2 separate regions of the Homo sapiens genome follow, and region 1 is linked to region 2. The links come from fine-mapping of genetic effects on gene expression. A gene starts in region 2. The other region holds a variant in brackets. All regions are shown on one strand. Distances are between the middles of the regions.

Region 1 (12,503 bases), 25 kb before region 2:
GTATTTTATCATACACAATATTACACTCAATATTTCAAAAGTGGATGATTCATCTCCCGAAGAGACTGCAAAATTCATGAGTTAAGATTTGAGAATACTATTTTAGACAAGATTTAGTCAGATTTTAGAGAGTTAGAAACCTGTAACAATTCTCTAACAATACTGCTTCTCCTTTTGTGTATTAAGGAATTTTTGTCTATCAAAGATAGTACGAGGTAGACCAGAAGATAACTTGCCTTCAAAATGTCTGGAATGTAAAATGGCAACAGTAGTATTTGGGGACTTCGTAGGGGATGGCCAATATACACCCATTCTTAGAGGTACTGATGATATAATGTATAAGACAAAATCAAGTGGTCTCCATCACCATATAATGTTTAAAATGGCAAAGAGGGAGCAGAACAAACACCCTTTGCAAATCTCTTCATAGAATCTACCGTAATAAACTTGTACTTGCTTAAAGTGTGTCTCTTCAGTGGTCTTATTACCACTACTTTGGGGAAAATGAGGCTGCTTAAAAGATTAACAGACATTACATTTTACATATCTGTGGCAGAGAAAACACTATGTATTCACCAAACCACTTCTTTTCCTTCCCAGTCACTCGGGAAGAGGTCATTTCTTTGTCCCCTTTCATCTAATTGAGGTGCCGTGACTACTTCTAGACAGGCAATGTGAGCAGAAGGTATGCACGCCACGTATAGGCCTGGTCTTCAAAAATCCCTCAGATATGATCTTCTTCTCTCGTCTCTTTCATGGACAAACTACAGGCCATGTAATAAGGATGGTGGGGTTCCAAACTGAAAGAGCCTGGATTTCTGATTTACTGTTTTGAGAAGAGTTCACCAGGGAAACAGCCTGGAAATACGCACAGGAAAATATGCACAGGACCCTGTGTGAGCAAGATATAAAGATCTATTACATGGTGCCATTAAGGTGAGAGTATTGTGCTTATAGTATCCAGCATTAATTATCCTCACTACTACAACTTCTTTGTATCCATCATGTGGAAAAGTAGAGTATTTAATAAATGATTATTGAGTTTATTACCTTTTTTATATTCCAATCATTGCTAATTGTACGTTACCTCATTTCAAGGTAAAGGTGACCAAGGGCTAAAGCAGTGCTATCCAAACCAAGCCAGACATCAAAATCACACAAAACCTTTTGAAAATACAACTTTGAAGATGCCATTCACATAGATATTTATTCAGTGGGTTTTCAAATGGAACCCTGGAATCTACAGTCTTTAACAAGGCTTCCCAAGTTATTCTGATATACAGCAGGCAAATCTGAGAACCACTGGACAAGAAGAAAATAAAGGCTATATCTTTCGACAACAAAGACAATGCCTTAAACATAGAATGTATTCAATTAAAGCTTGTAGAAAGATAGGTTTGTGAACAGGCACAGGGACTAGCCTCGAGCAAATTAATAAGGGCAGCAATGTTTTTCACTGAAACCATTATTCCCCCTATTTTATTTCTTCTGGGGCTCTGTGTTTCCTTTCTCCTATCAAAATCCATTCTAAGGTTGGAGGTTGGGGGTATCTCTTGCCTACTCCATACAGCAAGGAATAAAATTAGTATTTCTCGAACTATCTGTGACAGCAGACCCATTGTAGGCCAGTACTTTTGTAAAATGCAATAAAAATTAACTTCTAGAGAATGAAATTTTAAAATCACAGACATTCAAAATACAAATTCCAATTTTTTTATTATTAACTGTAAGAAATTTAAAATTAAATCTCAATAAATAAAATTAAAGCAAACATAAGATAGAAAAAAATAAGCATTATGGATTGGCCCAGTCTGCAAACTGTATACACTTTGCCAAACATGGGCATAAATTACTAAGAAGCAAAATCTTCCATCTGTAAACATTTCCATTTCCATTGACAATATGTGTGAGGGAAAGGAGGGATGCTTCTGTTTTAGAATGCCAGGCGTCAGCTAACAAGTGACAAATACGTATTGAGACTGAGATCTCCCCAGCCTCTCAGTAGTCAGCAAGAACATGTTGAGGCCTCTGTTTTTGACTAAAAAATTGGCCAGTGCATGGGCAACATGCATAGGTCCTGAATGAAAAAAATAGCAGCAGCAGAAATTTAAAAGAATTTTCACAGCTAGGCCACAGTAAATTCTCAAGCCCTTCATCAGAAGCCACTGTGGGGCCTCATTTATGCCTTTGTTTTTATTAAATTGGATGTGATCTTAAGATTCTTCTGTCAAAATTCCACTAGCATGTGAAGGCACCAAAAGTTTAAAATGTAAAATTAACCCAAGTTAAGCTATTCCATTATTAAGCAATAGCAGATATATTTGTTATTATATGAGAAGAAAGTTAACAGGGAGCTAAGATTGATGTTACTGATAAGAAACAGAAACAAGACTTTAAAATTAAATAAATGAATTATTTATTTAATAAGAACCAATTGACAGATTCTCGATAAAGACTGTAAGATGTCTTAAAACATTAGGTGTATGGAGATAACATTTGTAACTTTGACAATTTATATGATGAGAAAAATCAAGGAATGTTATTGTTTATTGGCAGAGTTCTAGAATTACAATTCCATCATTCTGTTTTGGGGAAGTTTCCCTTGAAGTAAATGATAACAGGGCTTGAAATAGTACACCTCAGCATTTTGTTTATAAAACTGTGGAATAGGTAAGGTTTGTATTGTAACTGAACCCAGGTTCAGCTGCTTGCTGCTCTAAAGCTAGACATAAGAGAGGAAGGTTGGTGGGAGGAAAAGCGATTTTAATCGGAGAAGCAGCAAACCAAGAAGATGGTGAACAATAGTCACAGAACCATCTTAAATTTTAAAATTTACCATAGAGTGTTCAAAGGAAAACTTGGTATGGGAGGCATGCAGGAGGGGTGCAGGGGGCGGGGTCTGTGTGTCTTGTTCCAATGGCTATCTCAGATAGTCACCCATCTGGAGGTCTAGTTGGTATTATTTTGAATTCAGCCCAGTGGTGGTGGACTGTCAGTGACTCCTCGCTAAGCAGGAGGATTCTGCACTCAGGGCTCCATGCATGGTTTGTTTCAAGATTGGCCTCTGGAATTTCTCAAGCAAGAACATAATTAAATAAGCAGGCATTGCCAGAGGGGAGTGTCTGGAAAGGAAAGGAATGAAGAGATGAAAGGAAAGTGGGTGGTTAAACTATATTTTTAAAACTGAGGTTCCCAGTTATAGTATGTTTCGCACGCTCCCCCCATTTTAGCACCCCTGACAGAATTTAGTAATCTCCTCATCTTGTCCTCTACTTCAGGTCCCCTATCTGTCCTTGTACTCTCCAGGGTTTCCTTTTCTTCTTCACGACCTTCCTTCCCTGCAATTTTATAAGCTATTCCTATCCCAGTGATTTAGTTTCAGCTTATAAAACTGTGTCTTTGCCATTGTAATCAAATTGAAGGGCCTCTGCTTCATGGTTGGATTCTGTGACCAGGAGACTCTTACGAGGAGTTGGCCAGGTCTCTGTTAGGAAAGCAAAAAAGAACAATGGAGGCAATTATCCCATTGATTTCAGCTATAAATCCTATTTTGCCTGAATTGTCTGAACGATGAGTATTCTGTGAAAATGCTGCTCTCTAGTGCAATAGAACTGCAAATAATGCACATCTATTTCTTATAATCTCATCCAACATACCCACAGAGATTCAGATCTAACAAAACAGAGGTGATTTGGTTATTGAATCATAATATAAATATGGGGAAGAGGAGGGAAATTTCAAGCCTGAGGAAACTGTAGTAGGAGTAAGTATGCTGTGTTTAAGAGGTCACAGATAAAATTAATATTACCAATCCATCAATAGGCAATTACTAATAGCTTACTACACACACAGGAATAAAATGTGAAGACAGAGGAAGTGTAAAATGGAGCCGCCAACTCTACGGAGTTGTTTGCAATTTGGTCTGGTAGAAAGCTATGAAATAAGGAAGTACATGATTGAGAGCTAGAGAATGTGGCACAGGCTCTGAACCCGGACCGTTCAATGTAGTAAGCTCTAGCCACACTGGACACTTGCAATGTGGCTTGTCCAAACTGACATGTGCTTTAAGTATAAAATATAATCCAGATTTCTAAGACTTCAAAAAAAATGGAAATATCTCATTAATAATCTTAAGTTTATTACAGGTAGAAATGATAGATTAAATAAACTATATTGTCAAAATTCATTTGATCTGTTTCTACAGTATAACAAACTTACTTGTGTGGTTTGCATTTTATTTCTACTGGATAACATGGCTTTAAAAATGGTATTTTAGAGGAAGGAAAGCTTGGTAGAGAATGGACTAATCCGGATCCCTGGAAGAAATGGACCTTGAATGGGTCTTGATGACTTGGAGAGGCAGAGAGAGAAAAAGAAAAGTCAAACATAGGGAATTGGTTGATAAAATGAAGGTGAGGGGAGAAGGAACAGAGGGAGGAGAAGATCCAGTTTGAGGGATATTACAGCGAGCAGCCTGAGAAAGAAGGATAAGAAAGGAGAGAAAAAATGCAAGGGAAGTAACCCTTCAAAGCCAGTCAGAAGTTTCTGGGTTCCTCAGCAGCCAGAAAAGAAGCCGTTGAAAAGATCTGAGTAACGGAGATTCTGGACGAAAACTGAAGTTATGGAAGGGAAGTTTAGACATGGGTTATTAAACGCTTTAGCGCATTAGAAGTTTCTTATGTAATCACTAAATTCAGATCCTGAAATAATGCCACAAGAACTATACAGCTCAGCCACCCAATTCAATAAGAAGTTACAGCACAGTCTCACACATATCCAATTAACCTTGGCCTTTAGTCAACATCTGGGTTCTTTTTGTCATTTTCAAATACTATCACCCAGAGGTGCTATGATTTATATTGGGGAGGGGATTAAAAGAAAATAAGTAAGTTGGTGATAAGAAAAAGCTTTCAGATGATTCCATCTGAATTAACAGCCCTCTTTAGTTGTCTAGGAAAGAGGATGCTTTTTCTTGAAAGTGCTTTGAAATGATGATGTGCTTGTTAGTAAACATCAATTATTTTCAAATCGTAATGTTTGCAAGTTTGTCTTCCTGTAGCTCACCCTTTATGTAGGTCCAGAATATGATTGTCACAAATATCTGGGTGAGCAAGACTATGAAATGTGGTCATAAAGTAAGTGATTATTTCTAAACTCATCTTTGTCACTCGTAGTGCTTCACAAAGCACCTTTTCCTGGACTACAATTCATTTTAATTGATCCCATCAGCACTATATCTGTATCCTGAGTGACTTCACAATACCCTCTATTTCAAGAGAAACCAATCAGGTTATGGGTTTGTTAGTAATAAAAATTACCAAGGAGCAGTTTGTGGATGGTAAAAGCAATGCAAATTCTAAAGAGAAGTCATAAGAGCAATAATAAGCATCCTCCTCACTTCTTGGAAGTGAACAATTCCAAGCTCCCTGAAGCAACACTTAACCTATCATATTAAACAGTAATGGACAAATATTAGAAATGTTGATGTCAGCTTTCAGAATCTGTGGGCATCAAAACATCACTTAAGTTCTCCGAAGTATTCTCTGTCAAGTTTCCTTCTACAGTATTCTTTTCCTACTAGGACAGAGCCTTAAGCCCTAGAAGAATAATTTTGCTTGTGTGTTAATTATTTGTTTACTGGTTCATTCCAGAGTGTGAGCTGGAAAAAGGGGGAAGTGTCATAAATAGTTTTTTATGGCCCATGGTTTTTCAACTACGTCACTATTGGTAGCAGTTTCCACTGCAGGATCTATTTGCAAAGCCTAGGAAATTAGCATTAAGCAAGCTGCTAGGAAGACTTCAACAGTAACTAGGCCACAGGCCTCACACATTTTTCCTCCACCCCAGCCTCCTCTGGAGAGTACTTGCTAAACCTCTGTGACACATAATGAAGCAAAGAAAGTGATAGAACAACAGAATTACACGGGCAGATCCTTGTTTCTTCTTCTCTCTCTAAAGAATTCCTTGGACTGAAAAGCAGTTTATTTTGGAGGAGTGAGAAAGTGGTGACAGAATTAGAAGGGCCTGGGAGGGCTTCATTTTAGGAGACAGTTTTAGGCTGAAAAGAGATTTCATGAGTGTGATTTACCTGAGGTGACTTTTGGGGGCTCTTATAAAAAGGAAGTTCATGCTGAATGGGAGGTGGCTTCTGAGATGCAGATTCTGGTGAGCTAAGAGGGCTCGGTAAAGAGGAGGCAGGAGTTAAGTAGCGTGAACTATGCAGTAGCAGCCTTCTTCCCCCCTTGCTTGGGGCAGGTCATCACAACCCTTCTCAATAAAGGGGTCCAGGAACCACTAGGAATAAATGGGCATTTGCACTTCAGGTGAAACCCATTTGTCATAACTGCTTGGACTTTAAGCTTACAAATAAAAAGAACCACATATTTCCCTTTGCAGCTTGATTTAGTTAATGTCATTTTGAGAAAGAAAGAAGACATTGTTATCCCGTCCCTTTTTTTTTTTTTTTTTTTTTTTTATGAAGAGACTGGGACTCAGAGAAGTCAAGTGATTTTCCCAGAACCAGAAAACACAGAAGTAGCAGAGCTGAGATGACTACTCCGGTCTTCTGATTCCAAATTCCAAATTCATTCTTCTAAGCGATTTCCCAAAACGGGAAA[T/A]GGGTTTATCTTCTATTTATGGGAAGTGATAGTGGTATTCTATTTAGAGAACTTATATAAAATCTTACTTTAAAATAAATAATATTTCAAAAAGTAAGCTTAATTTAAAGAAAATAATCAAGAAAGTCTGGTATATTTTTACAAATATACCAAATGACCTTGCTCTAAAATACATCTACTTTCCAGCAAGCCAAAGTGAAACAATTTGAAATAAGTGGCATTTACTGACCACTCCCTAAAGTTCACACAAAAGAGGTAGTACTCTAACTTAAATATACAAGGTGAAGAAATAGCTTACTCAGCCTGTTGGGCTTCCTCTTCTACACTCTTGGGAAATGCCCTCCGTGTTAACCAAGAATTCTCAGGCCTTGGAGGGAGTTTTCCATTCTCAGTAAACTGAGATTGCAGTTGCGGAAATTAAGAGGTATCTGTCCAGCACTTCATTCCCTTAAGGTCAGGATCTGTGCTTTTAATAATGACAATTAGCTAACATATACAATTAAGCCATGCAAATGAAGTAAGAGAAAGCTAGAGGAGAAATTCAGGAGCCAGTTGCCTTTTCCAGACATCTTGTACAAATAGTGTTCAAAGGACTAATTCAAAAGATGGGATTCTTCGCTTGAACCCAGGAGGTGGAGTTTGCAGTGAGCGGAGATCGCTCCACTGCACTCCAGCCTGGGTGACAAAGTGAGACCCCATCCAAAAAAAAAAAAAAAAAAAAAAAAAAAAGATGGGATTCTTTTTTAAAAAATAAATTTTACTGCGTATTTTTAAGGTATACAACGTGATGTTATAAGATGGATATAGATAGTGAAAAGGTAACTGTAGTGAAGCAAATTAACATATTCATCATCTCACATAGTTATCTTTTATTTGTTTTGTTTTGATGGGATTTTTAAGATAGTAGAAAGGAATGGTAGACAATAAACATTTGAGGGAAAGTGGGGCTTTGTAGAACTCCTAAAATGACAGCACGCACAAATGTCCCCATTATGTCTAAAGGGTAACTCGTTCCTACTTCTAGGGACAGCTGAGGGACATCAATGTAAATTTCTAAATGACTTCCTGAACTTTTTATTTTTATTTTTTGTATTTTTAGAGGAAATTATAATAACATCAAGCCACCTCTGGACCATATCGCTGCTGATATCATCAGCAAATGGCACTATTCCTAAATCCTAAGATGCACTTTTCCCTTCACATTTCAACATTTGTGAAACTCGATTGTACCTACACCTGATTTTATATACAATGCAGCCTTTCCTTTTCTTTTGTCATTGCATCTTACGCCTGATTTCTCCTTGGAATTGAGTAAATATAATGCTTACATGTGTTAATAAGAATTGAGGTCACTCATAATTTTTGAAATATGCCACCAAATATAAGCCTTTCTACATATTGTTGACTTTGAAGTCATTTCTTTTTTTAACTACTAAACAATAACACTTTTTGTTGAGAAAAATTGCATATGAACAAGAGACCAAGCAGGTAGAGAGAAAAAAACTTTTAATAATCAAGAGAATGTTACTGTGTCCCAAAGGCTAAAGTCACCTTACTATCAAGAGAGAAGGACAGGAACAGAGAGAACCAGGTAAATTACGAATTGAAAATTCCATGGTTCATTTATCTTTATTTTTAATAATTCCATTTGTGTGATTGTGTTGACCACAAGGTCATAATGTTACTCTTCATACTGACTTCTCATGTAAATTATAAATAAGTTTTTATGCTAATGATTTATGGAGTAAGCTATTCATCTTTCCGACAGAGAGTTACCTACAAAGAAATAATTATTCTACCTCTGAGATGAAATATCATGAAAGGAGTGGTTTCCAGATATTTTGACTTTTAAAAGCTTAAAGAATATATGTAGTATAAAATTCTAAAGCAGGCAAAATTAATCCTTTTAGCAATCAAGATAGCGGCTACTTTTGGTGAGAAGGACAAGGTAGTGATAGAGAAGGGGCTCAGGGGTCTTTCCTGAAGACAGTGAGGTGGGCAATGGTATTTTCCTTGACCTGGATGGTGATTAAACAGATGTGTTTACTTTGTGATAATTGACTAGGCTGTGCACCTATGAACTGCATACTTTTCCATATATGTACTGTATTCTTATACTTAAAAAGAAGTTTAAAAATAAATGCAACAGATATAGGACTTCCTATATTACTCGTTGACCAAAAAAATGGATTCATTTTTCTTTCAGGTAAAACGTACTAGTGGTTTTAATATTATATTGACCAGGGAGTAAATGTTTACCTTAGGAACCTTAATCTTGATGTTCTCCAAAGTCATTATCTGTTCTTTCTGATTATCAGAATAGAGTATATCTCTATATAAATGAAAATTTCTGGTCATTCTCAAAAAATAACACTAAGCATGAAAATCAGAAATATTGATCTTGTTTTGTAATGATGTTTCTATTGATGTGAAGTAGTTTCTAGTAGAGTTGCTGTCCTAACACACAAATGAAATTGCACTGTTTGGAAGACACAACTGTGAATGACTTGCTTCAGTAAGGAATTTCCAACATGATGGTTTAGGGATAGAGGTGCTCGATTCCTCTGTCTCCGGTTACCCAGGTTATTGAGGACAGGGAGGTCAATAAGTAATGCCCTCCTCCCACCCATAGCACAAAACAGAGCGGGGTTCAGAGAATAGGTAAGGCTTTGGCCAGGGTGTTGAGGAGACTTACATCCCTGGGAACCAGTCAGAATGGGGGCGCTGAAAACAATGTTTTAAATTCTAGCACCCAGCAACATATGTGTGAAGATTAAATGTACTCGTGCTAAATTCACTTGCTCCATTACTGAATTTGGGTGGTGTCTGTTAAAGATGGGAACAAAGGCATTCAGGTCCTGGTATCTTCTACCACTCCCAGCATGAACAGACTCATGTCAGTGGGTAAGGGATGGTATTTCCCGAGAAGGCTTTGAACTCTTGTAGTGGGTCAAATAATGGCCCCCCACTTAAAAATGTTCATGTCCAAATCCCTGGAAGCTGTGAAAAGGGGTTTTTGCACATGTAATTAAGTCAAAGATATTGAAATTAGATCATCCTGGATTACATAGGTGGGCCCTACATTTAATGACAAGTATCCTCATAACAGAAGAGGAGAAGGTGATGTGAGATTTGGAGCAGCAGAGATTGGAGTGATGTGGCCACCAATCAAGGAAACCAAGGACTTCCAGCAGCCACCAGAAGCTGGAAGAGGCAAGGAAGGACTCTTCCCTAAAGCCTTTAAAGGAGCACAGCCCTACTAACACCTTGCTTTTGGGCTCTGGCCCGCAAAACTGTGAAAGGATACATTGCTGTTATTTGAAGCCACAGTTCGTAGTAAATTTATTACAGCAGCCCTAGAAACTGATACAACTCCTAAATACACCCTTAGCAACACTGCTCAACAAGAAGTAGGCAATTTCCTCCTGACTGAAAAATACTGATACTGTTATGGGATCCTTGGGGGTGTTGCTTTTCTGTCCAGAAACCTCTGTGGCGGTGGCACCTTTGCATGAGTTTTGCTCGGGTCCACTGGGCCCACTCATCCTGGCAGGCTGCGCTCAGCTGACACTACTGGCGTGGATCCCATGCCTCCAAAGAGACTGGAGCGAAGCGGTGAGGGATGTGTGAGGAAGTGAGCGTGGGGTCTGGCACACAGTCAGGCTCAATGGCTGCTACAGCGGGATGGGCAGCTTCAGGTGCTGGCACGGGTGCTGGCTCACTGCAAGGCTGTGGCTGCACCAAGCAGCGCAGCAACGGAACGCATTGGTGCCTGGAAACTTGGAGACTCCAGGAACCTCAGGGCTCCAAAAGGCAAATCACAGCCCTAGCTTCGGGAGCTCCCAGGTCTGGGCTGCCAAAGGGCTGCAGCTCTTCTCTCCTCTCTCTCTCTTCGCTCCTCTCCCTTTCTCTCTTCACTCCTCCCTCTTTCTCTCTTCACTCCTCCTGTCGCCTATGAACAGCGAATTCAACCTTCCAGTTTTCAGACTAGGAATGCTGGAGTTGTCCTTGATTACTCTGAATTGTTCACTCCGCATATGGGCACTGAGGATACGTTGATGAACTACACAGACAAAAAGGATAGAAATTCCTGTCAAGACTACATTCAATAGGGATGAAGCAGGCAATAATGAATAAACATACTAAGTTGAATATGACTATTTAAATATATATAACACATATGACTTGTATAATGTTAAATATTTTAAGTTTTTTAAATTCTTCCCTTCATAGATTTTACATTATAGTAGAAGAGGCATTTTTGTTGTTGTTCTTTTTGTTTTGGATTCAGAGGGTAAATGTGCGGGGTTGTTACATGGGTATATTGCATAATGCTGATGATGGTCCCATCACCCAGGTGGTAAACATAGTACGTAATAGGTGAATTTTTAGCCCGTGCTTCCCTCTCCCATCTAGTCGTCCTGAGTGTTTATCGTTGCTACGTTTATGTCAATGTGTATTCAATATTTAGCTCCCACTTATAATTGAGAATATGCAGTATTTCGTTTTTTGTTCTCGTGTTAATTTGTTTAGGATAATGGCCTACAAAGAACATGATTTCATTATTTTTATGGACATGTAGTATTTCATGGTGTATATGTACCACGGTTTCTTTATACAATCCCACTGTTGATGGGCACCTAGGTTGATTCTATTGCTGTTGTGAATAGGGCTGCAATGAACATACAAGTGCATGTATCTTTTTGGTAACAAAAATTTTATATTTGGATTACCCAGTAGAATTGCTGGGTTGAATAATAGTTTTGGTTTAAGTTCTCTGAGAAATCTCCAAACTGCTTTCCACAGTAGCTGAACTAATTTACATTTCCACTAGCAGTGTATAAGCGTTCTCTTTTCTCCACAATCTTTTCACCAGCATCTGTTATGTTTTGGCTTTTTAATAGCCTTTTGATGACTGTGAAATGGTATCTCACTGTGGTTTGGATTTCCATTTCTCTAATGATTAGTGAATGTTGAGCATTTTTTTCATATGTTTATTGGCCGTTTGTATGTCTTCTTTTGATAAGCGTCTGTTCATGTCCTTTACACATTTTCAATTAAAATATTTGTTTTTTGCTTGCTGATTTAAGTTCTTTGTATATTCTGGAAATTAGATCTTTGTCAGATGCATAGTTTGCAAATATTTTCTCCCATTCTGTAGCCTGTTTACTCTGTTGGTAATTTCTTTTGCTGTACAGAAACTCTTTAATTAGGTCCCACTTGCCTATTTTTAGTTTTGTTGCAATTATTCTCTGGAACTTAGCCATAAATTGTTTGCCAAAGCCAACGTGGAGAAGGATATTTTCTAGGTTTTCTTCTAGGATTTTATAGTTTAAGTTTTACATTTAAATCTTTAATCCATCTTGAGTTAATTTTTGTATATGTTGAGAAGCAGGAGTCTAATTTCATTCTTCTGCATAGGGCTAGCCATTATCTTGGCACCATTTATTGAATAGAGAGTCCTTTCCTTATTGCTTATTTCTGTCAATTTTGTTGAATATCAGATCGTCGTAGGTGTATGGGTCCATTTCTGGGTTTTCTATTCTGTTCTATTTGTCTCTGTGTCTGTTTTTGTACCAGAACCATGCTGCTTGGTTACTGTAGCCTTTTAGTATAGTTTGAAGTTGGGTAATGTGATGTCTCTGGCTTCGTTCTTTTTGCTTAGGATTGCTTTGGCTATTCAGGCTCCTTTTTGGTTCCATATGAATTTTAGAATATTTTTCTGATTCTGTGAAAAATGACTTGATATTTTGCTAGGGATAGCATTGGAGTGGTAACTTGCTTTGGACAGTGTGGCCATTTTAATGATATTGATTATTCCAATCCATGAGCATGGAGTATTTTTATATTTATTCAGTCATCTTGATTTCTTTCAGCAGTGTTTTG
Region 2 (12,503 bases):
GCATGCCTATAATCCCAGCTACTCAGGAGGCTGAGGCAGGAGAATCACTTGAACCCAGGAGGTGGAGGTTGAGATCGTGCCATTGCACTCCAGCCTGGACAACAAGAGTGAAACTCTGTCTCAAAAAAGAAAAAAAGAAAAAGAAATTAAATGCACTATGGTTTATGGAGCGGTATTCCTCCTCCATGTCCTACATAAGATCTTTCACATGCCAGTCACAGTTAAATCTAATTTGCTGTAATCTGGATAAATGGGAGCTAATCAACAAGCTCTCAGCTCTAGCTCTGAATCAGCAGCAGATATTGCATTTTTGAAATACACTAATAGCAAGAATGCCTTCCTGACAACAACTGGCATTTTTGACACAGCAGGAAGTTTATCTGGATTCTGATATAATAGTTATTGGAATCATACATAGGTACATAGTTTAAAAGGCTAATAAGTCATTTGTTATTGCTTTTATTATCTCTGCATAGTTAGTAAAATTGAGATTAGAACCACTTCTCGAATGTACTGTTCTAAATCCTTAGCTTGCTTGATCACACATGACCCTCACAATGATCCTAGGAGAAATTATTCTGCATGCCATTTTGTAGCTGGGGAAACTGAGGCACAGAGAAATACAGTACTGCCCAAAATGTCATAACTAATCAAAGGCAAAGACAATACTCACACCAGCTCTGATTCCAGAGCCCACTCTCTTAACCATATGCTTTTCTGCTTCCCTAGTTGTAGAGTCTTTTTGTATGACTGCATTAATTATATGTGAAGAGTTCAAAAATTTCTATATAAGGTCTTTTAAGGGTGTCATTCTGGTTGAAAATGGAGGACTAGGCTTCTCACTTGAAGACATATTTCTGTAGAAAAACCTATTTTCATTTAGATGCTACAGTTACTTGATGTGGTTAATAAACCAGTTAACAGAGTATGAAAAGGATAAGGGTTAAAGCCCTCCCAAGCCATCTTTCATGCTGCTAATATGAATCACATTACTAGATACTTAAATATCATTTTCTCTTTGGTTCCCAGAAGACTGCATATATGCTAGAATATTTGTCCTCCTCTTTTACCCTTTCAGGCAATAAAGTATTTTGGACCACTGTACTATGTTATAATTATTGTTTCTCTCCTGATTTTTTTGCTCCAATCTAATGAAAGACATACAAGCTACTATACTGCTACACAATGACTAAATACCTGTTGGATTAGGTGGGGGGAAGATACACAGTCACTGGCTAGAAAGCATCATGCATACAGAGCCATTTTCACCATATATTTTATTTCTCATGATCATGTAGAATTTAGGCTTTGGTGTTGATTATTTCTCTCTTAGGAAACATAGTTGTTTCAGGGTTGATATCACAAAAAAACAGAAAAACCTATTCGAGAAAAGGAAAATTATTTGTCTGTAGGCCAAATTTTGAAGTAGGAAAACCTGCTTTTGGAGTTGTATTCCCCTCCCAGGCACTTAATCCAAGTTCCAGTCTTATTCTAAACTGGGGATGCTAGTATTAACCACCATAGGAGTTATCTGAGATGAGTTATCATCAACTTGGTACCAGGTTGTTGTCCTCTGGACTCAGTGAGCTCTAGAATTGCATGAAACTGGCCTAATTTATCAAAGTATGTAGCCTTGGGTAAATAATTCAAGCTCTCAGAGGTCCAGTTATCTCCTCTGTAAAACATATCTACATCCTAGGGATGACAATATCTACATCCTAGAGATGTCAGGAGGATTAAGTGTAATTTTTTTTAATTGTATGTATTTAAAATGGGCAACATAATGTTTTGATATACACGTGTATAGTGATTACTACAGTCAAGCAAATTAACATATCCATCATTTCATAGCTACCTTTTATGTATGTGATAAGATTATCTAAAATCTATTCTCTTACCAAATTTCCAGTATACAATATTGATATGGTTTGATCCATATCCCCATCCAAATCTCATGTTCAGTTGCAATCCCCAACGTTGGAGATGGAGCCTGGTTGGAGGTGATTGGATCACAGGGGTGGCTTCTAATGGTTCAGCACCATCCTTTCTTGGTACTGTATAGTGAGTAAGTTCTCACGAGATCTGGTTGTTTAAAAGTGTGTAACACCTCCCCCACTTTCCCTCTCTCTGTTCCTCCTGCTCCCGCTATGTGAAGTGCCAGCTCCCTCTTTGCCTTCCGCCATGATTGTAAGTTCTCTGAGGCATCCCCAGAAGCTGATGCTGCCATGCTTCCTATACAGCCTGCAGAACCATGAGTCAATTAAACCTCTTTTCTTTGTAAATTACCCAGTCTCAAGTATTTCTTTATAGCAATGCAAGAATGGACTAATACAGAAAATTGTTACTGAGAAGAAGGGCATTGCTATAAAGATACCTGAAAATGTAGAAGTGACTTTGGAACCGGCTAACAGGCAGAAGTTGAAACATTTTAGAGGGCTCAGAAGAAGACAGAAAGATGAGAGAAAGTTTGGAACTCGCTAGGAACTTGTTGAGTGGTTGTAACCAAAATACTGATAGTGATATAGACAGTGAAGTCCAGGCTGAGGAGGTCTCAGATGGAAATGAGAAATTTATTGGGAATGAGTAAAGGTCAGGTTTGCTATGCTTTAGCAAAGAGCTTAGCTGCATTGTTCCTCTGTTCTAGGGATCTGTGAAATCTTAGACTTAAGAATGATGATTTAGGGTATCTGGCAGAAGAAATTTCTAAGCAGCAGAGTGTTCAAGAAGTAACCTAGCTGCTTCTAATAGCCTATGCTCATAGGCATGAGCACAGAAATGACCTGAAATTGGAACTTACACTTAAAAGGGAAGCAGAGCATAAAAGTTTGTAAATTTTGCAGCCTGGCCATGTGGTAGTAAAGAAAAGCTCGTTCTCAGGAGAGGAAGTCAAGCAGGCTGCATAAATTTGCATAACTAAAAGGAAGGCAAGGGCTGATAACCAAAACAATGGGGAGAAAGACTCATAGGACTAACAGGCATTTTATTTTATTTTATTTTTATTTTATTATTATTATACTTTAAGTTTTAGGGTACATGTGCACAATGTGCAGGTTAGTTGCATATGTATACATGTGCCATGCTGGTGTGCTGCACCCATTAACTCGTCATTTAGCATTAGGTATATCTCCTAATGCTATCCCTCCCCCCTCCCCCACCCCACAACAGTCCCCAGAGTGTGATGTTCCCCTTCCTGTGTCCATGTGTTCTCATTGTTCAATTCCCACCTATGAGTGAGAACATGTGGTGTTTGGTTTTTTGACCTTGCAATAGTTTACTGAGAATGACGATTTCCAATTTCATCCATGTCCCTACAAAGGACATGAACTCATCATTTTTTATGGCTGCATAGTATTCCATGGTGTATATGTGCCACATTTTCTTAATCCAGTCTATCACTGTTGGACATTTGGGTTGGTTCCAAGTCTTTGCTATTGTGAATAGTGCCACAATAAACATAGTGTGCATGTGTCTTTATAGCAGCAGGATTTATAGTCCTTTGGGTATATACCCAGTGATGGGATGGCTGGGTCAAATGGTATTTCTAGTTCTAGATCCCTGAGGAATCGCCACACTGACTTCCACAATGGTTGAACTAGTTTACAGTCCCACCAACAGTGTAAAAGTGTTCCTAATAGGCATTTTAGGCTTTCATGGTGGTCCCTCTCATCACAGGCCCCGAGGCCTAGGAGGACTGAATCATTTCCTGGGCCAGGCCTAGGGCCCCTGCTCCCTCTTACAGCCTTGGGACTCTGCTCCCTGAATCCCAGCTGCTCAAAGGGGCCCAGGTACTGTTACAGTAGGTAGCTAATCAGGCATGAGTGGGGTAAGAGAGAAGTCCCCACCACCCACCAGGAATGTCAGGCAACCATCAGATGATGGTCAGGCAGTTGTCATACTGCCTCTCTAAAATAGTAATTGGTTGCAGCCAGCACCAGGGAGAGGCAACTTCTCAATAGATAGAAACACCTGAAATTGGTAACTGGGCGCTTCCAATAAGATCTCAGGAACTGAGAGAGTGGGCTTAACATGCACATTAAGAGGCAAAATGGTGAAGTATGACCTTTGGGGGCATTCCACCGGAAAAGGGAAGAAAGCCTCAGGTAAGCATGTATACAACTCCAGTAAACACACTGCACACGCTCACCTTCCAAGTGCAAGCAGGGCACCATGCATGCGGCAAGCTCACCCTTAGGGAAGGACCAAGGGAAAGGGGCACAAGATGTCAGAAGTAGGCCAGTGTATAAGATCCTAGGTTCAAGGTCAAACAGGGCACTTGACCTCCAAGGTGCCCACTTGGGCCTCTTCCAAATGTACTTTCCTTTCATTCCTGTTCTAAAGCTTTTTAATAAACTTTTACTCCTGCTCTGAAACTTGTCGCAGTCTCTTTTTCTGCCTTATGCCTCTTGGTCAAATTCTTTCTTCTGAGGAGGCAAGAATTGAGGTTGCTGCAGACCCACATGGATTTGCAGCTGGTAACTCAGATAACTTTCACCAGTAAGAATACAGTTCAGGCTGCTGCTTCACAGGGTGCCAGGCATAAGCCTTGGTGGCTTCCATAAGCTGTGAAGCCGGCGGGCGCACATAATGCAAGAGTTGAGGCTTAAGAAGCTCTGCCTAGATTTTAGAGGATGTATGAAAAAGCCTGGATGTCCAGACAGAAGCCTGTTACTGGGGTGGAATCCTCATGGAGAACATCTACTAGGGAAGCAAGGAGAAGAAATGTGGGGTTGCAGCCCCCACAGAGAGTCCCCTGGGGCACTGCCTAGCAGAGCTATGACAAGACAGCCACCGTCCTCCAGACCCCAGAATGGTAGATCCACCAACAACTTGCACCCTGCAGCCTGGAAAAGCTGCAAGCACTCAATGCTAGCCCATGAGAGCAGCTGTGGGAGATGAACCCTGGAAAACCACAGGGGTGGTTCTGCCCAAGGTTTTGGGAGCCCACTCATTGCATCAGTGTTCCCTGGGTGTGAGTCAAAGGAGATTATTTCAGAGCTTTAACATTTAATGACTGCCCGGCTGGCTTTCAGACTTGCAATGGGGCCCTATAGCCTCTTTCTTTTGGCAGATTTCTCCCTTTCGGAATGGCAGTATCTGCCCAATGCCTATACCCCCATTGTATCTTTGAAGCAATTACCTTGTTTTTGATTTTACAGGTTCATAGGTAGAAGGGACTAGCTTCGTCTCAGGTGAGACTTGGGACTTTGGACTTTTGAATGAATGCTGGATCGAGTTAAGACTTTGGGGAACTGTTGGTAAGGCACGACAGTATTTTGCAATATGAGAAGGACATTAGATTTGGGAGGGGCCAGAGTTGGAATAACATGGTTTGGATCTCTGTCCCCACCCAAATCTCATGTTCAACTGTAATCCCCAGTGTTGGAGGTTGGGCCTGGTGGGAGGTGAGTGGATTATGGGGTGGCTTCTAATGGTTTTGTACAGTCCCCTCTTGGTACTATATAGTGAGTTCTGACAAGATCTAGTTGTTTAAACGTATGTAGCACCTCCCATTTCTCTCTTCCCCCAGTTCCTGCCATGTGAAGTCTGGGGTCTCCCTATGCCTTCCATCATGATTTTAAGTTCCCTATGGCCTGCCCAGAAGCTGATCCAGCCATGCTTCTTGTACAGCCTGCAGAACTGTGAGCCATTAAACTTTTCTTTATAAATTACCCAGTTTCAGTTATTTCTTTATAGCAGTGTAAGAATGGACTAACACAATTATTAACGCTAGTCCTCATGTTGTACATTAAATCTCTAGATGTATTAGACGTAACTGCAACTTTGTACCCTACCCTACAATTTTCTTTCCCCCCAAGCCCCCCAACCAAGGGTCTACTCTGTTTCTATAAATTCAGTTGTTTTTTAATTCCACGTATAAGTGAAGTACAACTCAGTGTAGAAACTTGGTAAATGCTAGCTACTTGTTATAAGCTGTCAGTCAAAATAAAAATACAGAGATGAATCTCTAAATTAAGTGATTTATTTGGGAAGAAAGAATTGCAATTAGGGCATACATGTAGATCAGATGGTCTTCGGTATATCCACACAACAAAGAAAAGGGGGAGGTTTTGTTAAAAAAGAGAAATGTTACATAGTGCTCTTTGAGAAAATTCATTGGCACTATTAAGGATCTGAGGAGCTGGTGAGTTTCAACTGGTGAGTGATGGTGGTAGATAAAATTAGAGCTGCAGCAGGTCATTTTAGCAACTATTAGATAAAACTGGTCTCAGGTCACAACGGGCAGTTGCAGCAGCTGGACTTGGAGAGAATTACACTGTGGGAGCAGTGTCATTTGTCCTAAGTGCTTTTCTACCCCCTACCCCCACTATTTTAGTTGGGTATAAAAAGAATGACCCAATTTGTATGATCAACTTTCACAAAGCATAGAACAGTAGGAAAAGGGTCTGTTTCTGCAGAAGGTGTAGACGTTGAGAGCCATTTTGTGTATTTATTCCTCCCTTTCTTCCTCGGTGAATGATTAAAACGTTCTGTGTGATTTTTAGTGATGAAAAAGATTAAATGCTACTCACTGTAGTAAGTGCCATCTCACACTTGCAGATCAAAAGGCACACAGTTTAAAAAACCTTTGTTTTTTTACACATCTGAGTGGTGTAAATGCTACTCATCTGTAGTAAGTGGAATCTATACACCTGCAGACCAAAAGACGCAAGGTTTCAAAAATCTTTGTGTTTTTTACACATCAAACAGAATGGTACGTTTTTCAAAAGTTAAAAAAAAACAACTCATCCACATATTGCAACTAGCAAAAATGACATTCCCCAGTGTGAAAATCATGCTTGAGAGAATTCTTACATGTAAAGGCAAAATTGCGATGACTTTGCAGGGGACCGTGGGATTCCCGCCCGCAGTGCCGGAGCTGTCCCCTACCAGGGTTTGCAGTGGAGTTTTGAATGCACTTAACAGTGTCTTACGGTAAAAACAAAATTTCATCCACCAATTATGTGTTGAGCGCCCACTGCCTACCAAGCACAAACAAAACCATTCAAAACCACGAAATCGTCTTCACTTTCTCCAGATCCAGCAGCCTCCCCTATTAAGGTTCGCACACGCTATTGCGCCAACGCTCCTCCAGAGCGGGTCTTAAGATAAAAGAACAGGACAAGTTGCCCCGCCCCATTTCGCTAGCCTCGTGAGAAAACGTCATCGCACATAGAAAACAGACAGACGTAACCTACGGTGTCCCGCTAGGAAAGAGAGGTGCGTCAAACAGCGACAAGTTCCGCCCACGTAAAAGATGACGCTTGGTGTGTCAGCCGTCCCTGCTGCCCGGTTGCTTCTCTTTTGGGGGCGGGGTCTAGCAAGAGCAGGTGTGGGTTTAGGAGGTGTGTGTTTTTGTTTTTCCCACCCTCTCTCCCCACTACTTGCTCTCACAGTACTCGCTGAGGGTGAACAAGAAAAGACCTGATAAAGATTAACCAGAAGAAAACAAGGAGGGAAACAACCGCAGCCTGTAGCAAGCTCTGGAACTCAGGAGTCGCGCGCTAGGGGCCGGGGCCGGGGCCGGGGCGTGGTCGGGGCGGGCCCGGGGGCGGGCCCGGGGCGGGGCTGCGGTTGCGGTGCCTGCGCCCGCGGCGGCGGAGGCGCAGGCGGTGGCGAGTGGGTGAGTGAGGAGGCGGCATCCTGGCGGGTGGCTGTTTGGGGTTCGGCTGCCGGGAAGAGGCGCGGGTAGAAGCGGGGGCTCTCCTCAGAGCTCGACGCATTTTTACTTTCCCTCTCATTTCTCTGACCGAAGCTGGGTGTCGGGCTTTCGCCTCTAGCGACTGGTGGAATTGCCTGCATCCGGGCCCCGGGCTTCCCGGCGGCGGCGGCGGCGGCGGCGGCGCAGGGACAAGGGATGGGGATCTGGCCTCTTCCTTGCTTTCCCGCCCTCAGTACCCGAGCTGTCTCCTTCCCGGGGACCCGCTGGGAGCGCTGCCGCTGCGGGCTCGAGAAAAGGGAGCCTCGGGTACTGAGAGGCCTCGCCTGGGGGAAGGCCGGAGGGTGGGCGGCGCGCGGCTTCTGCGGACCAAGTCGGGGTTCGCTAGGAACCCGAGACGGTCCCTGCCGGCGAGGAGATCATGCGGGATGAGATGGGGGTGTGGAGACGCCTGCACAATTTCAGCCCAAGCTTCTAGAGAGTGGTGATGACTTGCATATGAGGGCAGCAATGCAAGTCGGTGTGCTCCCCATTCTGTGGGACATGACCTGGTTGCTTCACAGCTCCGAGATGACACAGACTTGCTTAAAGGAAGTGACTATTGTGACTTGGGCATCACTTGACTGATGGTAATCAGTTGTCTAAAGAAGTGCACAGATTACATGTCCGTGTGCTCATTGGGTCTATCTGGCCGCGTTGAACACCACCAGGCTTTGTATTCAGAAACAGGAGGGAGGTCCTGCACTTTCCCAGGAGGGGTGGCCCTTTCAGATGCAATCGAGATTGTTAGGCTCTGGGAGAGTAGTTGCCTGGTTGTGGCAGTTGGTAAATTTCTATTCAAACAGTTGCCATGCACCAGTTGTTCACAACAAGGGTACGTAATCTGTCTGGCATTACTTCTACTTTTGTACAAAGGATCAAAAAAAAAAAAGATACTGTTAAGATATGATTTTTCTCAGACTTTGGGAAACTTTTAACATAATCTGTGAATATCACAGAAACAAGACTATCATATAGGGGATATTAATAACCTGGAGTCAGAATACTTGAAATACGGTGTCATTTGACACGGGCATTGTTGTCACCACCTCTGCCAAGGCCTGCCACTTTAGGAAAACCCTGAATCAGTTGGAAACTGCTACATGCTGATAGTACATCTGAAACAAGAACGAGAGTAATTACCACATTCCAGATTGTTCACTAAGCCAGCATTTACCTGCTCCAGGAAAAAATTACAAGCACCTTATGAAGTTGATAAAATATTTTGTTTGGCTATGTTGGCACTCCACAATTTGCTTTCAGAGAAACAAAGTAAACCAAGGAGGACTTCTGTTTTTCAAGTCTGCCCTCGGGTTCTATTCTACGTTAATTAGATAGTTCCCAGGAGGACTAGGTTAGCCTACCTATTGTCTGAGAAACTTGGAACTGTGAGAAATGGCCAGATAGTGATATGAACTTCACCTTCCAGTCTTCCCTGATGTTGAAGATTGAGAAAGTGTTGTGAACTTTCTGGTACTGTAAACAGTTCACTGTCCTTGAAGTGGTCCTGGGCAGCTCCTGTTGTGGAAAGTGGACGGTTTAGGATCCTGCTTCTCTTTGGGCTGGGAGAAAATAAACAGCATGGTTACAAGTATTGAGAGCCAGGTTGGAGAAGGTGGCTTACACCTGTAATGCCAGAGCTTTGGGAGGCGGAGGCAAGAGGATCACTTGAAGCCAGGAGTTCAAGCTCAACCTGGGCAACGTAGACCCTGTCTCTACAAAAAATTAAAAACTTAGCCGGGCGTGGTGATGTGCACCTGTAGTCCTAGCTACTTGGGAGGCTGAGGCAGGAGGGTCATTTGAGCCCAAGAGTTTGAAGTTACCGAGAGCTATGATCCTGCCAGTGCATTCCAGCCTGGATGACAAAACGAGACCCTGTCTCTAAAAAACAAGAAGTGAGGGCTTTATGATTGTAGAATTTTCACTACAATAGCAGTGGACCAACCACCTTTCTAAATACCAATCAGGGAAGAGATGGTTGATTTTTTAACAGACGTTTAAAGAAAAAGCAAAACCTCAAACTTAGCACTCTACTAACAGTTTTAGCAGATGTTAATTAATGTAATCATGTCTGCATGTATGGGATTATTTCCAGAAAGTGTATTGGGAAACCTCTCATGAACCCTGTGAGCAAGCCACCGTCTCACTCAATTTGAATCTTGGCTTCCCTCAAAAGACTGGCTAATGTTTGGTAACTCTCTGGAGTAGACAGCACTACATGTACGTAAGATAGGTACATAAACAACTATTGGTTTTGAGCTGATTTTTTTCAGCTGCATTTGCATGTATGGATTTTTCTCACCAAAGACGATGACTTCAAGTATTAGTAAAATAATTGTACAGCTCTCCTGATTATACTTCTCTGTGACATTTCATTTCCCAGGCTATTTCTTTTGGTAGGATTTAAAACTAAGCAATTCAGTATGATCTTTGTCCTTCATTTTCTTTCTTATTCTTTTTGTTTGTTTGTTTGTTTGTTTTTTTCTTGAGGCAGAGTCTCTCTCTGTCGCCCAGGCTGGAGTGCAGTGGCGCCATCTCAGCTCATTGCAACCTCTGCCACCTCCGGGTTCAAGAGATTCTCCTGCCTCAGCCTCCCGAGTAGCTGGGATTACAGGTGTCCACCACCACACCCGGCTAATTTTTTGTATTTTTAGTAGAGGTGGGGTTTCACCATGTTGGCCAGGCTGGTCTTGAGCTCCTGACCTCAGGTGATCCACCTGCCTCGGCCTACCAAAGAGCTGGGATAACAGGTGTGACCCACCATGCCCGGCCCATTTTTTTTTTCTTATTCTGTTAGGAGTGAGAGTGTAACTAGCAGTATAATAGTTCAATTTTCACAACGTGGTAAAAGTTTCCCTATAATTCAATCAGATTTTGCTCCAGGGTTCAGTTCTGTTTTAGGAAATACTTTTATTTTCAGTTTAATGATGAAATATTAGAGTTGTAATATTGCCTTTATGATTATCCACCTTTTTAACCTAAAAGAATGAAAGAAAAATATGTTTGCAATATAATTTTATGGTTGTATGTTAACTTAATTCATTATGTTGGCCTCCAGTTTGCTGTTGTTAGTTATGACAGCAGTAGTGTCATTACCATTTCAATTCAGATTACATTCCTATATTTGATCATTGTAAACTGACTGCTTACATTGTATTAAAAACAGTGGATATTTTAAAGAAGCTGTACGGCTTATATCTAGTGCTGTCTCTTAAGACTATTAAATTGATACAACATATTTAAAAGTAAATATTACCTAAATGAATTTTTGAAATTACAAATACACGTGTTAAAACTGTCGTTGTGTTCAACCATTTCTGTACATACTTAGAGTTAACTGTTTTGCCAGGCTCTGTATGCCTACTCATAATATGATAAAAGCACTCATCTAATGCTCTGTAAATAGAAGTCAGTGCTTTCCATCAGACTGAACTCTCTTGACAAGATGTGGATGAAATTCTTTAAGTAAAATTGTTTACTTTGTCATACATTTACAGATCAAATGTTAGCTCCCAAAGCAATCATATGGCAAAGATAGGTATATCATAGTTTGCCTATTAGCTGCTTTGTATTGCTATTATTATAAATAGACTTCACAGTTTTAGACTTGCTTAGGTGAAATTGCAATTCTTTTTACTTTCAGTCTTAGATAACAAGTCTTCAATTATAGTACAATCACACATTGCTTAGGAATGCATCATTAGGCGATTTTGTCATTATGCAAACATCATAGAGTGTACTTACACAAACCTAGATAGTATAGCCTTTATGTACCTAGGCCGTATGGTATAGTCTGTTGCTCCTAGGCCACAAACCTGTACAACTGTTACTGTACTGAATACTATAGACAGTTGTAACACAGTGGTAAATATTTATCTAAATATATGCAAACAGAGAAAAGGTACAGTAAAAGTATGGTATAAAAGATAATGGTATACCTGTGTAGGCCACTTACCACGAATGGAGCTTGCAGGACTAGAAGTTGCTCTGGGTGAGTCAGTGAGTGAGTGGTGAATTAATGTGAAGGCCTAGAACACTGTACACCACTGTAGACTATAAACACAGTACGCTGAAGCTACACCAAATTTATCTTAACAGTTTTTCTTCAATAAAAAATTATAACTTTTTAACTTTGTAAACTTTTTAATTTTTTAACTTTTAAAATACTTAGCTTGAAACACAAATACATTGTATAGCTATACAAAAATATTTTTTCTTTGTATCCTTATTCTAGAAGCTTTTTTCTATTTTCTATTTTAAATTTTTTTTTTTACTTGTTAGTCGTTTTTGTTAAAAACTAAAACACACACACTTTCACCTAGGCATAGACAGGATTAGGATCATCAGTATCACTCCCTTCCACCTCACTGCCTTCCACCTCCACATCTTGTCCCACTGGAAGGTTTTTAGGGGCAATAACACACATGTAGCTGTCACCTATGATAACAGTGCTTTCTGTTGAATACCTCCTGAAGGACTTGCCTGAGGCTGTTTTACATTTAACTTAAAAAAAAAAAAAGTAGAAGGAGTGCACTCTAAAATAACAATAAAAGGCATAGTATAGTGAATACATAAACCAGCAATGTAGTAGTTTATTATCAAGTGTTGTACACTGTAATAATTGTATGTGCTATACTTTAAATAACTTGCAAAATAGTACTAAGACCTTATGATGGTTACAGTGTCACTAAGGCAATAGCATATTTTCAGGTCCATTGTAATCTAATGGGACTACCATCATATATGCAGTCTACCATTGACTGAAACGTTACATGGCACATAACTGTATTTGCAAGAATGATTTGTT

What was found.
Region 1: its variant is fine-mapped to the expression of C9orf72 in blood mononuclear cells (TOPMed, PIP above 0.99). The same link has a PIP of 0.9 or more in monocytes after interferon gamma.

The regions. Positions count from the first base shown.
Region 1 is chr9:27,593,724-27,606,226 of GRCh38, reverse strand. No RefSeq gene overlaps it. Among named protein-coding and RNA genes, the nearest start is that of C9orf72, 26 kb to the right of the region's middle. The variant T/A (reference allele first, on the strand shown) is at 6,618.
Region 2 is chr9:27,568,549-27,581,051 of GRCh38, reverse strand. C9orf72 (C9orf72-SMCR8 complex subunit) reads left to right here and starts at 7,571. Exons shown (of 11, transcript NM_018325.5): 1 at 7,571-7,621. RefSeq lists enhancers at 6,962-7,489, 8,088-8,177 and a silencer at 7,498-7,577.